Linked DNA regions of Homo sapiens: region 2 is linked to region 1. Evidence: fine-mapped expression QTL. Tissue or cell type: whole blood. Region 1 holds a variant in brackets; the other region holds the start of a gene. All regions are shown on one strand. Distances are from middle to middle.

What was found. PIP is the estimated chance that this variant, and not a neighbour inherited with it, causes the effect.
Region 2: it holds the start of RIF1, and the variant in region 1 is fine-mapped to the expression of RIF1 in whole blood (TOPMed, PIP 0.95).

The regions. Positions count from the first base shown.
Region 1 is chr2:151,267,082-151,278,413 of GRCh38, reverse strand. NMI (N-myc and STAT interactor) reads left to right here. Exons shown (of 8, transcript NM_004688.3): 5 at 2,550-2,656; 6 at 2,744-2,930; 7 at 6,682-6,788; 8 at 7,539-7,944. The coding sequence ends at 7,721. Among named protein-coding and RNA genes, the nearest start is that of RBM43, 11 kb to the right of the region's middle. The variant C/TC (reference allele first, on the strand shown) is at 5,412.
Region 2 is chr2:151,403,927-151,412,092 of GRCh38, reverse strand. It overlaps RIF1 (replication timing regulatory factor 1), which reads right to left and starts at 2,191. Exons shown (of 36, transcript NM_018151.5): 1 at 2,060-2,191; 2 at 1,566-1,679; 3 at 755-833. The coding sequence starts at 1,669. RefSeq lists enhancers at 2,119-2,278, 1,883-2,581, 2,582-3,280 and a silencer at 2,984-3,278.

The sequences.
Region 1 (11,332 bases):
GCCAGAGCCAAGAAAACAGATTCTGAGGATGTTTAAGTGATTTACCTAAGGGAACATAGCCAACGAATGAGAAGAGCCTGGGAGCTAGAGATTTGGAATGAAACCTAATGTTTGCTAAGTCTGCCATGGTGAGGGCCCCTGTTCAGAGCTGGGGGTTCCTGAGTGGGGAGGATCTGGCTTTGAGTGCCAGCCTTGTCCCTTCCTAGAAGCATGATTTGGGATAGGTTCTTTATAAACCTCAGGGTTTTATACAGGTGCTTCATGGTAGTACCTACTTCATGAGGCTGCTTTGAGTATTAAATGAGAAATGTTGATAAAATACTTAGCACAATGTTGGACACTTAATACAAACTTAATGGATGTTAGTTTTTGCTACATGTTAGAAATTTTTCAGATAAGGATACAGAAGCTTAAAGAAGATAATTAACTTGCTTAAAGTCTATACGGTTAGTTGCAGAGCTTAGAGCCAAACCCTGAGAGTCCATGTACTTCCACTGGGCCAATATTTCTCTCGGTAGGCCACCAGCCCAGGCCTTTGTTCTTTTATTTAAGTTATGTGGTGAGGGACCAGATGGTGTTCCCAGCCCTTCCAGTGCTCATATTCTGACAGTCTATAACCCATGTTTCCTCAAAACTGGTGCACCACTGTAGCCTGAAAATAAATGTTGAAAGGCATTCCAGCAGGACAGTATCTGTGCGTAGAAGACATGCATCGCCAGTGTGTTTTCCTTCACCCTGGAGCTACTGCTACAGGTAGAAGAGGAGTCCAGGACTCATACTGGCGACTGGTAATCGGGATATAACTAAAAGATAGATATAAATGAGGATTTGGGAGGCAGGATTTCTGCACAGCAATTTCCTGGGAATGTTGGAAATGGAATTCTCTAAAAGCACCTACATCATTGCTTCTACGCTTGACGTGGCTCTGAGCTCCCAATCTCCTGGGACAGCAGTAGGTTTGAAACACAATTAAGTAGGAGTTGGCTCTTGATTGTCAGAGTCACAACAATTGAGACACAAGCGGTCCCTCTCAGCTGTATCAGATCACCAGATGTTGGGGGTTTGTGGAAGAGTGGGAGGGAAAGAGGATCATCTGAGTATTACTCATTGATATTTTCTGTTATTGTCTGTTGTCATTAGCAAAAAAACACAAAAACACAAAAAAACAAAAAACCATCATCCAAGTTATAGAGTCATATTTTGGTACAGTGAGTTGAATTCCCACATGGCCAAGGCCCTGCCTTCTGGCCCTTTTTTCTCTTCCTCCAGCTGTGGTGTGGTGCCATCTGGTCTGGTTGTCATAAACACATGTGAAGTTTTATAAGACAGAGAGTGAATGTCACTTATTTTCATGATACATTGGAATAGCAGCCCCAAATATCAACAACTGCAGTATTATAAACTCATGCCACACAATTAAAAATAAATGCCCACTCACATTTTTAATTGACATAGAGTTGCCTTTTGGAGTGCTAGTGATTTTTAGCATTTTACTAAACCTCTCCCATTTGCACAGGTAAATTAGACTTGACAGCTTTGTGATCAATATAGCAGGACTATCAACTTTTTAAAGAATGATTTCAAGAGCATTTTTGCAAAAGTGGAATTCGTCATTAAGTATGACCAAAAAAAAGACTCACTCTTTGATGTTCCAGCCTATGTAGTCTTTAACATGTAATCCTTGAGAAGACAGAGCAAATGAATATATATTGCTCTAGTGCTTGTAACATATTAAGGAGTAACAAATGATAAGGTTAAGTAAAATCAAGACTAATTGTACAAATGACACTTAGCCATGAAAGTTTTCCCAGCTTACTGAACATGGGACACTTTCTGGCTGTGCATTAATGTACTAGGGGAATCCTCTGGTAATTGTTAATAGTGGAAGGAAGGGTATGTGGCTGAGCTGAAGTAATATATGAATTCTGGAAGATTGTTAGGCTTATCTCTTAAGAGATAAGAGAAAAGATTCATCTTATGAGAAGAATCTAGAACTTGAGAACTTCTACATTGTGATTTTGCTGATATACTTTGACATTAATATATTCTACTTTGGGACCAAGAGCAGTGGCTCATCCTGATAATACCAGAACTTTGTCTGGGAGTCCGATGCAGGAGGATTGCTTGAGTCCAGGAGTTCCAGAGCAGCCTGGGTAACAAAGTGAGAGCTCGTCTCTACAAAAAGTTAAAAAAATTAGCTAGGCGTGGTGGCATGCACCTGTAATCATAGCTATTCTGGAAGCTGAGGTGGGAGGATCTCTTGAGCCCAGGAGTTTGAGGTTACAGTGAGCTATGATCACATCACTGCATTCCAGCTTCAGTGACAGAATGAGATCTGGTCCTCCTTCCCCCTGACCCCCCAAATTATATATTCTACTTTGGTAGCAAGACCATTATCACTTGGAATCACCGCCCGCCAAATTTTTAAAATTAGACCCTTTAATATTAAAGAAAATTAAAAATATTCAGGATAATTTGTTCTTAAACCAAAAGCATAACAATTCTTAAAATATTGGAAATTAATACTTCCTTCCTGAATTATTTTTCAGTTGCTCAAAATGTGGTAAGCATGAGTAAACATCATGTACAGATAAAAGATGTAAATCTGGAGGTTACGGCCAAGCCAGTTCCATTAAATTCAGGAGTCAGATTCCAGGTAACAGGATGATTAAAATTTTTTGGATTTCTGTTCATCACAAGCACTTCTCTCATCCATATTTCTGAACATCAAATCATTTTCCAGGTTTATGTAGAAGTTTCTAAAATGAAAATCAATGTTACTGAAATTCCTGACACATTGCGTGAAGATCAAATGAGAGACAAACTAGAGCTGAGCTTTTCAAAGTCCCGAAATGGAGGCGGAGAGGTGGACCGCGTGGACTATGACAGACAGTCCGGGAGTGCAGTCATCACGTTTGTGGAGATTGGAGGTACTCAAGGGTGTAGAAGGTTAACAGACACTCTGCCATTTCAGTCATGTTCTGTTGTTTCTGAAAGTATTCCTATTCTACTTCTTTTATTTGGAATGTATTAGCATGATAATTGGGGATTTTAAAAAACCTTATAAAATAGTAGAGTGTAGGAAATTATTTCCAGGGACAGTACTAGGAAAGATAATATTGCTACAAATAGGCAGGGTGCAGTGGCTCACCCCTGTAATCCCAGCACTTTGGGAGGCGGAGGCAGGCGGATCACTTGAGGTCAGGAGTTCAAGACCAGCCTGTCCAACATGGCGAAACCCCATCTCTACTAAAAATACAAAAATTAGCCAGGCATGGTGGCAAGTGCCTGTAATCCCAGCTACTTGGGAGGCTGAGGCAGGGAGAATCACTTGAACCCAGGAGGTGGAGGTTGCAGTGAGCTGAGATCACCAGGCATAGTGGTGCGTGCCTGTGGTCCCAGCTACTCAGGAGGCTGAGGTGGGAGGATTACTTGAGGCCAGGAGGTTGAGGCTGCAGTGACCTGTGATTGCACCACTGCACTACAGCCTGGGAGACAGAGTGAGACCCTGTCTCAAAAAACAAAATTAAAAAAAAAAATTGATGGATTAGATTTTTTCATGACAAAGTAATACATGCTTTTTTAAGGAAGGTGAAATAATACAGAAGAGCAAACATTTAGTAAAAATGAGACATTTCGGCCGGGCCCGGTGGCTCATGCCTGTAATCCCAGCACTTTGGGAGGCCGAGGCAGGCAGATCATGAGGTGAGGAGTTCGAGACCAGCCTGACTAACATGGTGAAACCCCGTCTCTACTAAAAATACAAAAAAATTAGCCAGGTGTGGTGGCGCATGCCTGTAATCCCAGCTACTCGGGGGGCTCAGGCAGGAGAATAGCTTGAACCCAGGAGGTGGAGGTTGCAGTGAGCCGAGACTACGCCACTGCACTCCAGCTTGGGCGACAGAGTGAGACTCCGTCTCAAAAAAAAACAAAAAGAGACATTTCCTCAAACTTCCCTTTCTCCTACTATTTAGTTAGTTATGGTTATTTGGGTGTCTTTCCAGGCTTTTCTCTGGGCACATTAAAACATGTCAATATCCTTTTTTTTTTTTTTTTTTTTTTTTTTTTTGTGAGACAGAGTCTTGCTCTGTCGCCCGGGCTGGAGTGCAGTGGCACTATCTCAGCTCACTGCAACCTCCGCTTCCCGGGTTCAAGCAATTCTCCCACCTCAGCCTCCCGAGTAGCTGGAATTACAAGTGCATGCCACCATGCCTGACTAATTTTTGTATTTTTGGTAGAGACGGGGTTTCACCATGTTGGTCAGGTTGGTCTCGAACTCCTGACTTCAAGTGATACGCCCGCCTTGGCTTCCCAAAGTGCTGGGATTACAAGCATGAGCCGCCGCTCCTGGCCCAATATGCATTTTTGACCTGAGCTTTTGGATGATGTTTAGGACATCCTGGTGGGATGTGTCAGGGAGAGCTATAAAAGGAAGGGGTCTTGAGGGCTACAGTAATATGTTGTCTTGGAAATGAACAATAACTTGGTGGAAACTTCCATAGTCAAGCATCCAGATTTTAATTTGCCAAATTCATATATTCATTTAGCCTGTTTGGTGTTAGTTTGTCTATATCTTGGATTTTAAAAAATCTGGCCAGGCGCAGTGGCTCATGCCTATAATCCCAGCACTTTGGGAGGCGGAGGCGGGTGGATCACTTGAGGCCAGGAGTTCAAGACCAGCCTGGCCAACATCGCGAGACCCCTTCTCCACCAAAAATACAAAAATTAGCGGATGTGCTGGCTCACGCCTATAGTCCCAACTACTTGGGAGGCTGAGGCAGGAGAATTGCTTGAACCTGGGGGGTGGAGGTTGCAGGGAGCTGAGATTGCATCACTGCACTCCAGCCTGGGTGACAGAGTGAGACTCGGTCTCAAAAAAACCGAAATAAAATAAATAAAATAAAATAAACTAGAATGCAATTTATAACTCTACTGTGAGAGATAATACTAGCTTTGGAACCTGTGTCCTTGGGCCATCTGGGGATGTTCTCCTAGAGGTTACATCTAGCCAGATGGGAAAAATACTTCTGCAGGTTATAGGTTATCCAGCAGGTAACTACTGAAGGATGTGAAGGTATTCTGGAGATAAATATGCCAGATACTTCATAAACTGTGTCTTACTGACTCATCACAATAATCTACAGGGTAGGTACTGTAATTATGCTTATTTTACAGAAAAAGAAACTGAGGCTTTAAGAAGTCAAGCAACATATCCAAGGCCACATAGCTCATAAGTAGCAGAGCTAGGACTGAAGCTGGTCTATTTGACTCAGGACCTGTACTCTTTTTTTTTTTTTTAACTGTGATAAAATATATATAACATAAAATTTACCATTTTAACAATTTTTAAATGTACAATTCAAGGGTACTAAGTACATTCACAATGTTGTACAACCATCACCACTATCCAT[C/TC]TCTAGAACTTTTTAATCACCCCAAACTGAAACTCTGTACCCATTTAACAATAATTCTCCATTACCTCTTCTTCCAGCCCCTGGTAACCATCATTCTACTTTCTGTCTCTATGAATTTGCCTATTCTAGGTACCTCATTCAAGTGGAATTATACAATATTTGTCCTTTTCCTGTCTGTCTTATTTTGGTTAGCATAATGTTATCAGGGTCCATCCATGTTGTGGTATGTATCAGAATTTCATCCTTTTTAAAGGCTGAATAATATTCTCTGTGTGTGTGTGTATTTTATATATCCATTTTGTTGATCTGTTCATCTGTTGGTGGATGCTTGGGTTGCTTCCACCTTTTGCCTATTGTGAAAAATACTGCTCTGAGCATTAACGAGCAAGTATCTGTCCGAGTCCCTGCTTTCAGTTGTTTCGGGTATATACCCAGAAGTTGAATTGCTGGATCATATCATGTTCTATTTTAATATTTTGGGGAACTGTCATACTGTTTTCTACAGTGGCTGTACCATTTTACATTTCTATCAGCATTGCCTCAGGGTTTCAATTTCTCCATATTCTCGCCAATGAGGGCCTACACTCTTAATCATTGTACCATATTGCTGATCCAAGGTAGATGAGTGAGAAGAGTCATAAAAAACATGGTTGTATATTCCCAAGAACTGTTTTTGTTAAATGTTACAGTCTTGACACACATCCTTTCACCACTCTAGGAGAAAAAAATACTGCTAAAAAATAGACTATTCTTTGTGTTGTAGAAAACTGATGAATTTTTATTTCCTTTCAGTTTTTCTAGATGACATTCAATCCCCTCCCTGCTTTGGTTAACATCATTACTTCAGTTTATTGAATATATTGAAAAAAATGTATATAGTATTCTAATCATAGTTTTCACTTACAGCTTTTGAGAAACTGGGAAACAGTCCAGTCTTGTTAGATGAGTGGGTTACTTTCTGCAAAAGACTATGGTATTTTTTATAGCTCAAAGTAGATCTGTCTGAGGACATTGCAACCCTTTGTGCATTGATTGACTGCAGTGAATAATTCAAGATGGAATGAAGGCTTTAAACCTCATTATTGTTTGGTCTTGTAGTTTTCAAAATTATGTACTGTGAAGTCTTCAAAGTGGGCTTTAGAATTTCTTAAAAATTAATCTTTTAACTCAATATTTACTGTAATAGTGTTCTCTTTGAAGGAAGTTTTAACTTTGGTTAAAAATGCTTATGATATAAAAAAGACAAGTATTGTTTTTGTTTTGCTTTTAGTGGCTGACAAGATTTTGAAAAAGAAAGAATACCCTCTTTATATAAATCAAACCTGCCATAGAGTTACTGTTTCTCCATACACAGAAATACACTTGAAAAAGTATCAGGTAAAGTCATCTCTGTTCTCTCATTTTCAGAACTCACTGCCCAAACCCACCCCACAAAAAATAAAGTTGTTGTGAGTCTGTTACTTATGCATCTTATCAATGAGGGATAGCAAAATGGTTTCTTTACTTCATTTTTGCTTGGTGCAAAATGAGTTTGTCTTTTGAAGGAGCATTTTAATGCAAAACTGTACTTTATTATACAATTTTTAAAACTGAAATTACTCAGATAATGGCACAATTTTTATTTTTGTACATGGAGACATAGTTGCATTTCTCTCATATGTCTACTGTCAGTGAGCATGAGAAAGAATTCCTGCCTACTTTCTCTGAACTCATTATCTTTACCCCAGACCTGCTCCCTTTTCCTCTTCCTTCTCAGGTATCCAATGGTACCACCATCTACCTACTCCACCAACTTAAAAGCTAGAACTCATACTTAACTCTTCAGTTTGCTTCACCTCCAACATTCATTTGGTCACTAAATCTTGCCAGCTCCACTTCTGACTACCTCTTTACCTGGTCTTTCTGTTCCCAGAGCATCCCTCCTTTCCTCTGTGTTCCATAATGCCACCAGAGTTCTCTTTCTAAAACTCAGATCTGACTTGGATATTCTCTTGCTTGGAAAATCTTCCTAAGATTTCTTGTCTCTTCTAAGATAAAATAAAAAATATTAAGCAGAGATTATGAATGTAAAGTTTTGTAATTCAAAGCTCTTAGAAATCTTTCTATTTATCATTTTTTCCTTCTTAGATATTTTCAGGAACATCTAAGAGGACAGTGCTTCTGACAGGAATGGAAGGCATTCAAATGGATGAAGAAATTGTGGAGGATTTAATTAACATTCACTTTCAACGGGCAAAGAATGGAGGTGGAGAAGTAGATGTGGTCAAGTGTTCTCTAGGTCAACCTCACATAGCATACTTTGAAGAATAGACTTAACAGAATCATGAAAACTATAGCTTTTTAACCCGGATTACTGTAAATGTTTGACAAAAATGAATATGCTTTTCCTTAAAAAATGAAAACTTTAATTTTTACCATCCATTTATGTTTAGATACAAAACTTATTTCCATGTTTCTGAATCTTCTTTGTTTCAAATGGTGCTGCATGTTTTCAACTACAATAAGTGCACTGTAATAAAAAGTTTTGTTTATAGATTATGTGTATTGGTGCCATGTCTGCTGAAATCAACCTTAAGTGATTCAGATGTCCCCTGCCAGTGCTGGCTCATCCTGTTATGGTCTTGTGGGCCAATTCAGTTGTGGCCCCATGCCCACCAATATGCAGACTTGACTCTTAACATTTTCCAAAACAAAGGCAGTTACATTCAGCAGTTGGTGATTCCTGTAAACTCAACTGAAGATTCGAAGGACTTCAAGAGCAACCATTTACCACTGTGCATAGCATTTCACTCCACAACTCTAAAGGTTCTCAGAGCTGAGTGTGATCTTTTTCTTGAATTTCTGTTCACCCAAGTGCCAAGTGTCCCTTGATTCCTTCCAAGCCATCCCCTCTCCAAATAGAGCTCGTAAAGGACTAGCTTTTTCTTTCTTTTGCACTTACAATGGAAACAATTGGTATAAGAGTTTGAAAACCTTGGCATGGAGAGAGAGGTAAATACAAAGTTAGTGACTCATCACTTATCATGCTCGATGCTGGGGAATGACTGGAGGTAAAAACACAGTACCTGCCCTCCAAGGGTTTAAGTTTAGTTGGAAAGAGACCCAGTTTACTAGCATCTCACTGTTTTTAACTTGCAGAAACTTTAATGATAAAATTAAAGATTCCTATTCAGAGAAGGTAAAAGTCTTTTTGGTAAAGAACCTTTAGGCCGGTTGCGGTGGCTCACGCCACCAGCACTTTGGGAGGCTGAGGTGGGCGGATCACTTGAGGTCAGGAGTTCGAAACCAGCCTGGCCAACATGGTGAAACCCTATCTCTACTAAAAATACAAAAATTAGCCGGGCATGGTGGTGGGCGCCTGTAATCCCAGCTACTTGGGAGGCTGAGGCAGAATTGCTTGAACCTGGGAGGCGGAGGTTGCAGTGAGCTGAGATCGTGCCATTGCACTCCAGCCTGGGTGTTGCAGTGAGACTCTGTCTCAAAAAAAAAAAAAAAAAAAGAAAAATAGAAAAAAAACCTTTGGACAACTTCTATTCTGACATGGTAGGTTTCATGAAGAACTGGCAGCAGAATTAAATTCATATTAAAATGCTGGCAGAATGAAAGGCTTTTAGAAAAGGTTCTAAACCTATTGAATGCTGCCTGGCATCTAAAACAAACAAAAGGAAAAGCTCGAGTTTTGCTTCTGATATTTTATTTTTAGTTTTTAAAGTTACATTACTCTCAGGAGTTCTCATTTTCACCTTTCTTTAAAGAATGAGAGATGGTGCCTAAAAACTACAGTTTATGATAAATCTTCATATTTACCATTTAAACAAATCTCTCGTGTCTATTATTCTTTTTAAAATAGAATGACTATTTAAAGCTCTCAAAAATATTAAGAAGAAAACTTTAAAGTAGCTTTTTAATTTCCATTTTGCCAGTCTCACTGGCACAGAAGGTATTGTTGATAGTCTGTGGCAGATTGCCTATCAGGAAGAATTTTATGTTAATATTTATTTAGGACAAAGTTGAAATAGTCACTTTTGTATTTTGGGGGGTCCTCTTCAGGCAGTAAAATTGATAATTCAATTCTAAATTTTCCTATGTGTTTTTTTATAAATATTTCTAGCTTAGAAAATTATACTTTTCTTTTGGATTCCTTTCACCCTCACCCAAGAGCAGTCTGGCTGGATGTCAGAAAACAAGTATTGGCTCTCCTGCTTATTCCTAGAGTTTTAGGGATCTTACAGAAGGACAGCTGTCTTTGAAAACTTATCAAAAGTACATATTGACTGTTTAATATATTGAATATTAAGAAAGGGGCCTTCATATGTATGTCCAAGATGAGCTAACTCCAGACATTGCCAATATGATAAGTCATATAGATACATATGTGGAATTACAAGTTCCTCTTGCTGTTTGTTGATTTATCAGGCAGCACAGGCTAGGTAATGCCACAGTAACAAACAACCTGCCAAACCTCATGGGCCTAAACAATTCTTACCCATGCTGATTATCCAGCACAGGTTGGCAGGGGGACTCTGTTTATCCTCATCACTTAGAGACTCCATTCTTGAGACAAGAATCATGGAGGGTGGAGGAGGGGGAGGAAATGTGAAATCTGGAAAGTCTTGTATCAGCAATTAAATGCTGTGACCCAGAAGTGATTCTTGTCATTTCTTCTCACATCTCATTGGTCAGAAATAGTCACATGGCCCTATTCAAATAGAAGGGACTTGGGCTGGGCATGGTGGCTCATCCATGTAATCCCAGCACTTTGGGAGGCCAAAATAGGAGGATCACTTGAGGCCAGGAGTTTGAGACCAGCCTGGCCAACACAGTGAGACCCCATCTCTATTTAAAATCTAAATACATGTATATATATAAATGCTTATATATCTCTATTTTAAATCCAAATATATATATGGGGACTAGGAAATTCTGTCTTATCAAAAGTTAGGAGAAACAGATATCGCTGAGCCAGAATAATAACCAGCATAGCCTACCTGTCTTACCACCAATATTTAGTTCATTTGTCTTCTCACACAAAATACACTCGTAGTCATCTCATCCTTAAGGGAGAAAAACAAGAAATTCTATCCAATCATGATATTAAACTCAAAGTGCATGAATTCAAAGTGCTCTACATCAGGTCTGAATGTTACTCCTCTTTATGCAGAGACCCTCACACATCCAATATAGAGTAGCGGAACTGGAATAAGATGAGTGCAATAAACTCTTACACTTGGAAAGGGAAAGAATGGGAGACACATAGCCGTCACTGGGCCAAAGCAATTCTGAAATCCCATTCAGTAGATGTGTGCTCCATACTCCCAGGGTGTGGAATTTGGATTAGGCCCTGATTCCATTCTCTAAGAATTCTCTTGCTCATTGTCCTTATGGCTCTTGAACATTCTTCTTCTTCTTTTTTTTTTTGACACGGATTCTCACTCTATCGCCCACACTGGAGTGCAGTGGTGCGATCTCAGCTCACTGCAACCTCCGCCTCCCAGTTGAACACTCTTCTTTTTCCATTATTCTTCTTGGCCATATCTAGAATGGGCATTTGAAATCTCTTGGAATCTGAAAAGCTTCCCTAGTGCACTTCCTATGGTCAATGTTTGTGACCAAAGTTATAAAGTTTTGAACAGTCATGGTCTCTTTAGTCTGGAGTGGTGGTTATTTAGCTGGTAAAATGGAAAAACTCAATAGGCATCTTGTCTATTTTATTCTGGTAAGCTTACACATCCACAGTTCTTTTCTAGACTTACTTTTTAGAGTTGCTACTGTTCTCTGCTTTCTTAGCCTCATGCTTCTTTCACTCTCCTCATTTAATTATAGATACTTTGGGTCTATCAGGCCACACTTTTGCTTTCATTTCCTTGAGCTATTTTGTCCAGTTGAAAGGGTTTATTGTATTCCACAACCTTAATTGGTGT
Region 2 (8,166 bases), 140 kb before region 1:
AACTGAGGGTGAATGAGGAAAAAGAAATTAATGCTACCTAGATTAGACCAAAGACAATTGTAATTTTAGAAGCACTTACTTAGATGTAGATTCCCAAAAGGAAAGAAAACAGATTAATCTCTGATCTCTGCTTTCAAGAGCACAAACTCAGATTCAAGTGCCCCTAGGCAACTTTAGGCAAATTAAATTAATTTCTTCACCTGCAAAGTGATCATTAAGAAATAATCTCATGGAACCATGGAGAGTTAAGTGATAAAGCGTGTAAGGTAATTAAGAAAGTACCTGAGAAGCTTTAAGTAACAATAAAGAGTATTATAATCAGTATTATTGCTGTTATTTTAGATTCAAAGCTTTTGAGTCAACTGGCAAAACTTTTAAAAACCACCAAAAGTGGCTGGACACAGTGGCTCACTCCTGTAATCCCAACACTTTGGGAGGCTGAGGCAGGCGGATCACCTGAGGTCGGGAGTTCGAGACCAGCCTGACCAACATGGAGAAACCCCTTCTCTACTAAAAATACAAAATTAGCCGGGGCGGTGGCGGATGCCTATAATCCCAGCTATTCAGGAGGCTGAGGCAAGAGAATCGCTTGAACCCGAGAGGCGGAGGTTTCAGTGAGCCGAGCCCGAGCCTGAGCCATTGCACTCTCGCCTGGGCAACAAGAGCAAAACTACACCTCAAAACAAAAAAACAAAACCAAAAAAAAAAACCAAACTACCAAAAGTGAAAAACTGTTTAACAAACAGATACATACCTTTAAAACTTTGTACAGCCGAGGAAGTTTTTTCTCAATTTCTGTAATTACTTCTTTTCCTTCTTCTCCAGTCATACGACTTAAAAAGCAGGAAGAACACAAGTTTAAGTAGTTGACAGGAAAAAAAAAAATACTCTCAAAAATACATGTACAATCTTTTTAAAAATTACTTTCTAACTCCTGCAAATGAATTGACCCAGTAGGTAAGGTCCTTAAGGGTATACAGAATATATAATGCAATATATATCAGAAATGAAAGTAGAAAAACCCTCAGAATAAGTTTTTACATCGAGTACATGCAAGTTGTGACAACCTGACTCCAAAAAGACAGAACAGGGATCCCTATTCCTAGTTACTAACGATTTGCTAAGCCTTTCCAAAGGGTTTTACAAAACTTTAGTACATTTCTATGAAAATTACTTTGAAGCATTTTGCAATTAATAAAAATCAGTGTATTGCTCTGTTAAAAAAACTCTGGGTAGCCACATTTTCCCAACACATCGGAGGTTTACACTGAAGACCCCTCCTCCAACAACTACTTCCAACCGAAACTTTTAAAAATCCCTCGCTTGCAAAACACACGTGCATGCTCCCTCGTTCCAAACACACACCTCAAGCGCAGCAGCAGCAGTACCCGGGAACGTCACCTAGAATACATCTCCCCCGCCCCCCAAGGCGTCCGCGACTCGGGCGTCCTCACATTTGCTAGACTTCTAGAACTCACATTCATTCTACGCGCCCCTCCCAACCACCTTCTTTCTCCCCACTATAGAGCGCCCCACTCTCCGCTACGCCCCGTGGCGGACCTCACCTGGTCAGAGTCAGGTAAGCGTCAGTCTGCCCTCCATGGGAGGCAGAAGGGTCTTCCAAAGTCTCCAACAGCGGCGCGAGGGGGCTCTGACCCCTGGCCGTCATGTCGGCCACCCTGAGGCCCGAACCGGAAGAGGAGAAAATCCAGTGACCGATGGAAACAGCCCCGCGGCGGCCCAGTGTGAGTCCGGCCCTCACACCCGCACGCCCGCCCGGGCCTCACAGCCACGCCGCGTCTGCACCCCAGGCCTCCGAATCACCAAACCCCAGCGCGAACCTCCTCCGGCGCCCGACACCAGACACCTGAGCCCACGCCACATTCGGGCCTGGGCCCGCTCCCGCCACCACTTTCCCGGGCAGCTTTCAACAGAGGGAGGAGATCGGCGGAGGGCGGGAGAAGCCCGGGGAACGAGGCATCTCGCCGCGAGGGGGCGGAGGGTGGGCAGACTGAGGGTTCCCCGCGGCCTACCACTGTCACCCCGATATTTATCCCACCTAGGAAGATCAGGACAGGGTTCTCTCCGCCTCTGCCCCTCAGCACCCAGACGCTGCCAGAGCTCGACTTTCCCAGCTCCGGCTGTTTACTCACGCGTGCGGCGCGCTCCCTCCTAGACCAAGATGGCGGCTGGGCGGGCCCAGGAGTGCGCGGGAGTAGGTTAGGCCTGGCGGGAGAAGTTCGAGCCAATCCAACAGTCAGCGGCACACCGGAGTTATCGATCGCCTCCCTTCCCATCCCTTCCCATCCCTTCCCTGCCCAGCTGCCGCGTCACGCCCCTCTGGTGAGCATCAGGTGGTGGTGTTTTGCCTAAGGCGAGAGACTTGAAATTCAAAATGTGAGTTAATTGCTCAGACTCACTAGACTGAACATAGTGGGCCCTCAGACTAAGTGTTCAAACTCCAAGTCCAGTGCTTGTTGAAGTTTTAGCAACAAATCAGTTAGCAAAAGGAGATAACGTACTGTTGGGTTTAAGACTAAGAGCTGGCCGGGCGCGGTGACTCACACCTTGTAATCCAAGCACTTTGGGAGGCCGAGTCTGAGGTCAGGAGTTCGAGACCAGCCTGGCCAACACATGGTGAAACCCCGTCTCTACTTAAAAAAAACAAAAATACAAAAATTAGTTGGGTGTGGTGGCGCACGCCTGTAGTCCCAGCCACTTGGGAAGCTGAGGCAGGAGAATCGCTTAAACCCGGGAAGCGGAGGTTGCAGTGGGCCGAGATCACGCCACTGCACTCCAGCCTGAGCGACAGAGTAAGAGTAAGACTCCGTCTCTCAAAAAAAAAAAAAAAGAAAGAAAGAAAAAGAAAAGAACTGTATCTCAAGCTGGTCTAGATTCCAGCTGGTCTAGGTTCCATGTGACTTTAGCAAGTTAATTAACCTATGCCTCAATTTCCTCCTCTATAAAATAGGGCTTTTAATAGGTGAAGTGAGAAAAGGTTGGAGAGGCCAATGGTTCTCAGGTCTTAAGCGTACATAACAATGGCCTGGGGATATTCGTTATTAAACTGCAGATTCCTGGGCCCCGCCCATATGCATTGTAATTCAGTAGATTTAGGTAGCTCCCGAGGATGTGCATTCTTCTGTTAGGCCCCTGGGGGGTTGAAGGGTGGGATTTGGCCAGGGCTTCTTCCCTAGAGAAACGTCAGTAAACACAATGACAGTCATTTCTCCTTACTGTGAATATGCTGCTCCTCCCCCGCCTTTTTTTTTTTTTAAGACGGAGCCTCGTTCTTTCGCCCAGGCTGGAGTGCAGTGGTGCGATCTCGGCTCACTGCAACCTCTGCCTCCCGGGTTCAAGCGAGTCTCTGACTCAGCCTCCCGAGCAGCTGGGATTACAGGCGCCCGCCACCACACCTGGCTAATTTTTGTACTTTTAGTAGAGACGGGGTTTCACCATCTTGGCCGTGCTGGTCTCGAACCCCTGACCTCGTGATCCACCCGCCTCGGACACCCAAAGTGCTGGGATTACAGGCGTGAGCCACCGCGCCCGGTCTGCTTCTCCCCTTTTCATATGCCTTCGTGCACTCTCCACAACAGACAGGATTGCATTAACTCTAAATCAGACACATGAAGCCCAGCAGCAATGGAACTCTCCATCATGGGTTCCTGGCCCAGGATTTGAGCCCTCACTCACATGTGCTGCAACTCTCAGCTCTAGAAGTGGGATGTTGCTTTTTGCTCTTCTTTGTGTCATCTGCACTTAGCAAAATGACTGCCAAACGACGCAGTACATACATAGTATGCTTATATATATATTTATTTATTTATATGTATTTATATATATTTATATTTATTTACATATATTTATATATATACACACACACACATACATATATACATATACATATATATATATATATATATATTTTTTTTTTTTTTTTTTTTTTTTTTTTTTTTGAGACGGAGTCTCGCTCTATCACCCAGGCTGGAGTGCACTGACCTGATCTCAGCTCACTGCATCCTCCGCCTCCTGGGTTCAAGCGATTCCCCTGCCTCAGCCTCCCGAGTAGCTGGGATTACAGGCATGCGCCACCACGCCCAGCTAATTTTTTGTATTTTAGTATAGACAGGTTTCACCATGTTGGCCAAGATGGTCTTGATCTCCTGACCTCGTGATCAGCCCGCCTCGGCCTCCCAAAGTGCTGGGATTACAGACTTGAGCCACCACGCCTGCCTCTACCCATTCATTAGAACATAAATTCTGTGAGAACAGGGATTTTGCTTTATTTTTTTCATAATTTCCCATTTGTAATGAAAGGACTACGGTGGTCATGTTGCTTGTATTTCTTTCATATGTATGGTTCTTTGATCTTCCAAAAATGTTATGTTTTAAATTTTATTATTTTTAAAGACAAGGCCTTGCTCTGTCACCTGGGTTGGAGTGCAGTGGTGTGATTGTGACTTACTGCAGCCCTGAACTTCTTGGGCTCAAATGATCCTCCTGCCTCAGCCTTATAAGTAGCTCAAAAATGTTATGTAAGATTTTATCATTGTCATTCCTGTGCCTAAAGTTCTCCAGCCATTCCCATCAGTAACAGGATGGATTTCAAAACTTTTGACATAACATGCAAGCCTATCATGATTGGGCCACTGCTTGTCCTTCATCTCCAGATTACTCCCACTTCATCAGATTCTGAACAGTCTGCTAAGATCTCCAGCTTCTCTGTGTCTTTGAAGACTTTTATTCAGAGCATGTATTTAGAATATTAATTACCTTCTTCAAGAGTAATAAATAAGAGTCAGGTGGCTCACACCTATAATCCCAACACTTTGCAAGGCTGAGGCAAGTGGATCACCTGAGGTCAGTTCAAGACCAGCCTGGCTAATATGGTGAAACCCCTTCTCTACTAAAAATACAAAAATTAGCCAGGCGTGGTGGTGCATGCCTGTAATCCCAGCTACTCAGGAGGCTGAGGCAGGAGAATCGCTTGAACCCAGGAGGCGGATTCAAGCCAAGATTGTGCCACTGCATCGCAGCCTGGGCAACAGAGCAAGACTCCATCTTAAAAAAAAAAAATCAACTAAAATCACACCTTTTTGTGAAATCTTTCCCTCATCTACTCTCCAACCACACACATTCTCTTCATGGAGAATTAAATGCTCCTGCCTCCCTCCTATCATGCTATAGATCTGATAAAATGAGTATCTCATTAATTTATTATTGTTTGGTTATAGGTGTTTGAGTGCAGTGGCAGAGTTGAGAGTTATCCTGATGGGGATTAATTCCATCTGTAATCTCATCTCATCAGTGCCCCTCCCTCCTATTTGACATTTTCTCAATCTGATCTAGAGTGCTAAGGGATTACAGAATGAAAACAAATACCCTTCCCCACCCAGACCCCTCTTCACACACCTTTACAACTTGGTTGCTACCCCAAAACTTCTCTTTTATAGAAATTCCATATAAATTTATATAGAAATATTTATAGCCACCCTCATGGATCTGCTACCTTTGGGCAATAAATTCATAGTACCTAGCACTCAATAAATATAATTTGAAATAATTTGTTCATATATTAATTCATCCATCTATCATCTAACTAATACACGATTTCTATCTTTCCCTCTCTAAATCCTATATCTCTTCTCCCCAGATCATCTTCCCTTTCTAGATGCCTTATATCTGCAATCCAATATTCCTTTCTAACTTCCTCATTTATGTTTTTTTGTTTTGTTTTGTTTTGTTTTGTTTTGAGACAGGGACTTGCTCTGTCACCCAGGCTGGAGTGCAGTGGTGCAAACATGGCTCAATGCAGCCTCTACCTCCTGGGCTCAGGTGATCCTCTCACCTCAGCCTCCTGAGTAGTTGGGACTACAAGAATGCACCACCATGCCTGGCTAATTTTTATTTTTTGTAGAGATGGAGTCTTGCTATGTTGCTCAGACTGGTCTCAAACTCCTGGGCTCAAGCAATTCTCCCACCTTAACCTCCCAAAGTGCTGAGATTATAGTCTTGAACCACCATGCCCAGCCACATTAAGCACACATTACTCAGCAAACGTCAAGCCTATAATCTATATCTATCAATGACTCCTTTCTCTTACTTGTCCCCAGTGGTCCTAATGATTCTCCCTTCTCAATAATTCTTAGATCTACCCACCAATGTGTATCTAAAATCTCAATTTATAGCCTAAATACACCTAAACATATTATTTCTTAAAAAAAAAAAACAAAAAAAGTTTTTATTGAGTGCCTGGTGCCATACATGCCTTATCTTTTTTTTTTTTCTTTTCGAGACAGAGTCTTGTTCTGTTGCCCAGACTGGAGTGCAGTGGCACAATCTCAGCTCACTGCAACCTCAAATGTTGCAGTGTTCAAGTGATTCTCATGCCTCAGCCACCCAAATAGCTGGGATTTCAGGTGTGTACCACCATGCCCAGCTAATGTTTGTATTTTTGTCAGAGACGGGATTTCACCATGTTGACCAGGCTCGTCTGGAATGCTTGACTTCAAGTGATCCACCTTCGTTGGCCTCCCAAACTGCTGGGATTACAGGAGAGAGCCAACACGCCCAGCCCATGCAAGCATTATCTCATTTATTTCTCACAATAATTCTAAGATGAATTACTTTCCTGGATTTACACATAGGCCATGTAAAGCTTAAAGAGTAAATTAAAACAGAGAACTTTAATCTAGCCATGTGTAACAACAAGTCTACTTGAACTACTTTCATTCATCAACATGTAATGAGCTCTACCCTGCACAAGGCACGGTGGTAAAATGGCTTTCATGATAGATTTATTACTGAATCTTGTAAGAAAAATAAAGTGTAAAGTCCTATGGGAGCCCATTATGTAAAGGGCTCATATAGTAATTCGTTTAGTAAAATCAAGTATTCATCTGTAATCCAAATTATTATAGTAAATGCAATGAGCTCAGCTTTGGATCAAAGAAATGAGTGTTTAAATACTTGCTGTGCCACTGTGTGACTTGAGATCCTCCAGAGAAATGCTTAAAGTTACCACATCTTCATCAATAAAATTAGAAGAATATACTTACATCAAAGTTCAGTGCCTAGCACAAATCTTGGCACATAATAGGTATTTAATAAGCATTTATTAAGTGATTGTATTAATTTAAAATTTCTTAATTCTTTTCTAAAATAGAATTAGTTTAATTCTTATCATTTAAAAATTGTGCGGAATTATATAAAAATCAACTCAAGGCTGGGCACAGTGGCTCACGCTTGTAATCCCAGCACTTTGGGAGGCCGAGGCGGGCGGATCACGAGGTCAGGAGATCGAGACCATCCTGGCCAACATGGTGAAACCCCGTCTCTACTAAAAATACAAAAATTAGCTGGGTATAGTGGCACATGCCTGTAATCCCAGCTACTTGGGAGGCTGAGGCACAAGAATTGCTTGAACCCGGGAGGTGGAGGTTGTAGTGATCTGAGATCACACCACTGCACTCCAGCCTGGTCGACAGAGCGAGACTCCGTCTCAAAAAAAAAAAAAAAAAATCAACTCAATATGGATTAAAGACTTAAACATAAGACCTGAAACTGTAAAACTACTAGAAAAAAAAAATGGAAAAACTTCTTGACATTGGTCTGGGTCTGGGCAATGATTTTTTGGATTTCACTCCAAAAGCCTAGACAACAAAAGCAAAAATAGACAAATGGGATTACATCAAACTATAAAGCTTCTGCTCAGCAAAGGAAACAGTCAGCAGAGTAAAGAGACAACCTATGGAATGGGAGAATGTATTGCAAACCACACATCTGGTAAGGGTCAATATCCAAAACATTTAAGAAACTCAACTCAATAGCAAGAAAACATAACGTGATTTTAAAATGGGCAAAGGACCTGAATAGACATTTATCAAAACACAACATACAAGTGTTCAACAGTTATATGAAAACATTTTCAACATTGATAATCATTCGGGAAAAGCATATCAAAACCACAATGAGATATCACCTCACACCTGTCAGAATGAGTACTATCAAAAAGACAGGAGATAACAAATGTTGGCGAGGATGTGGAGAAAAGGGAAATGTTGAACACTGTTGGTGAGAATGTAAATTAATACGGCCATTATGGGAAACTAAAGGGTCCTCAAAAAACTAAAAATAGAATTACCATATGATCTAGCAACCCCA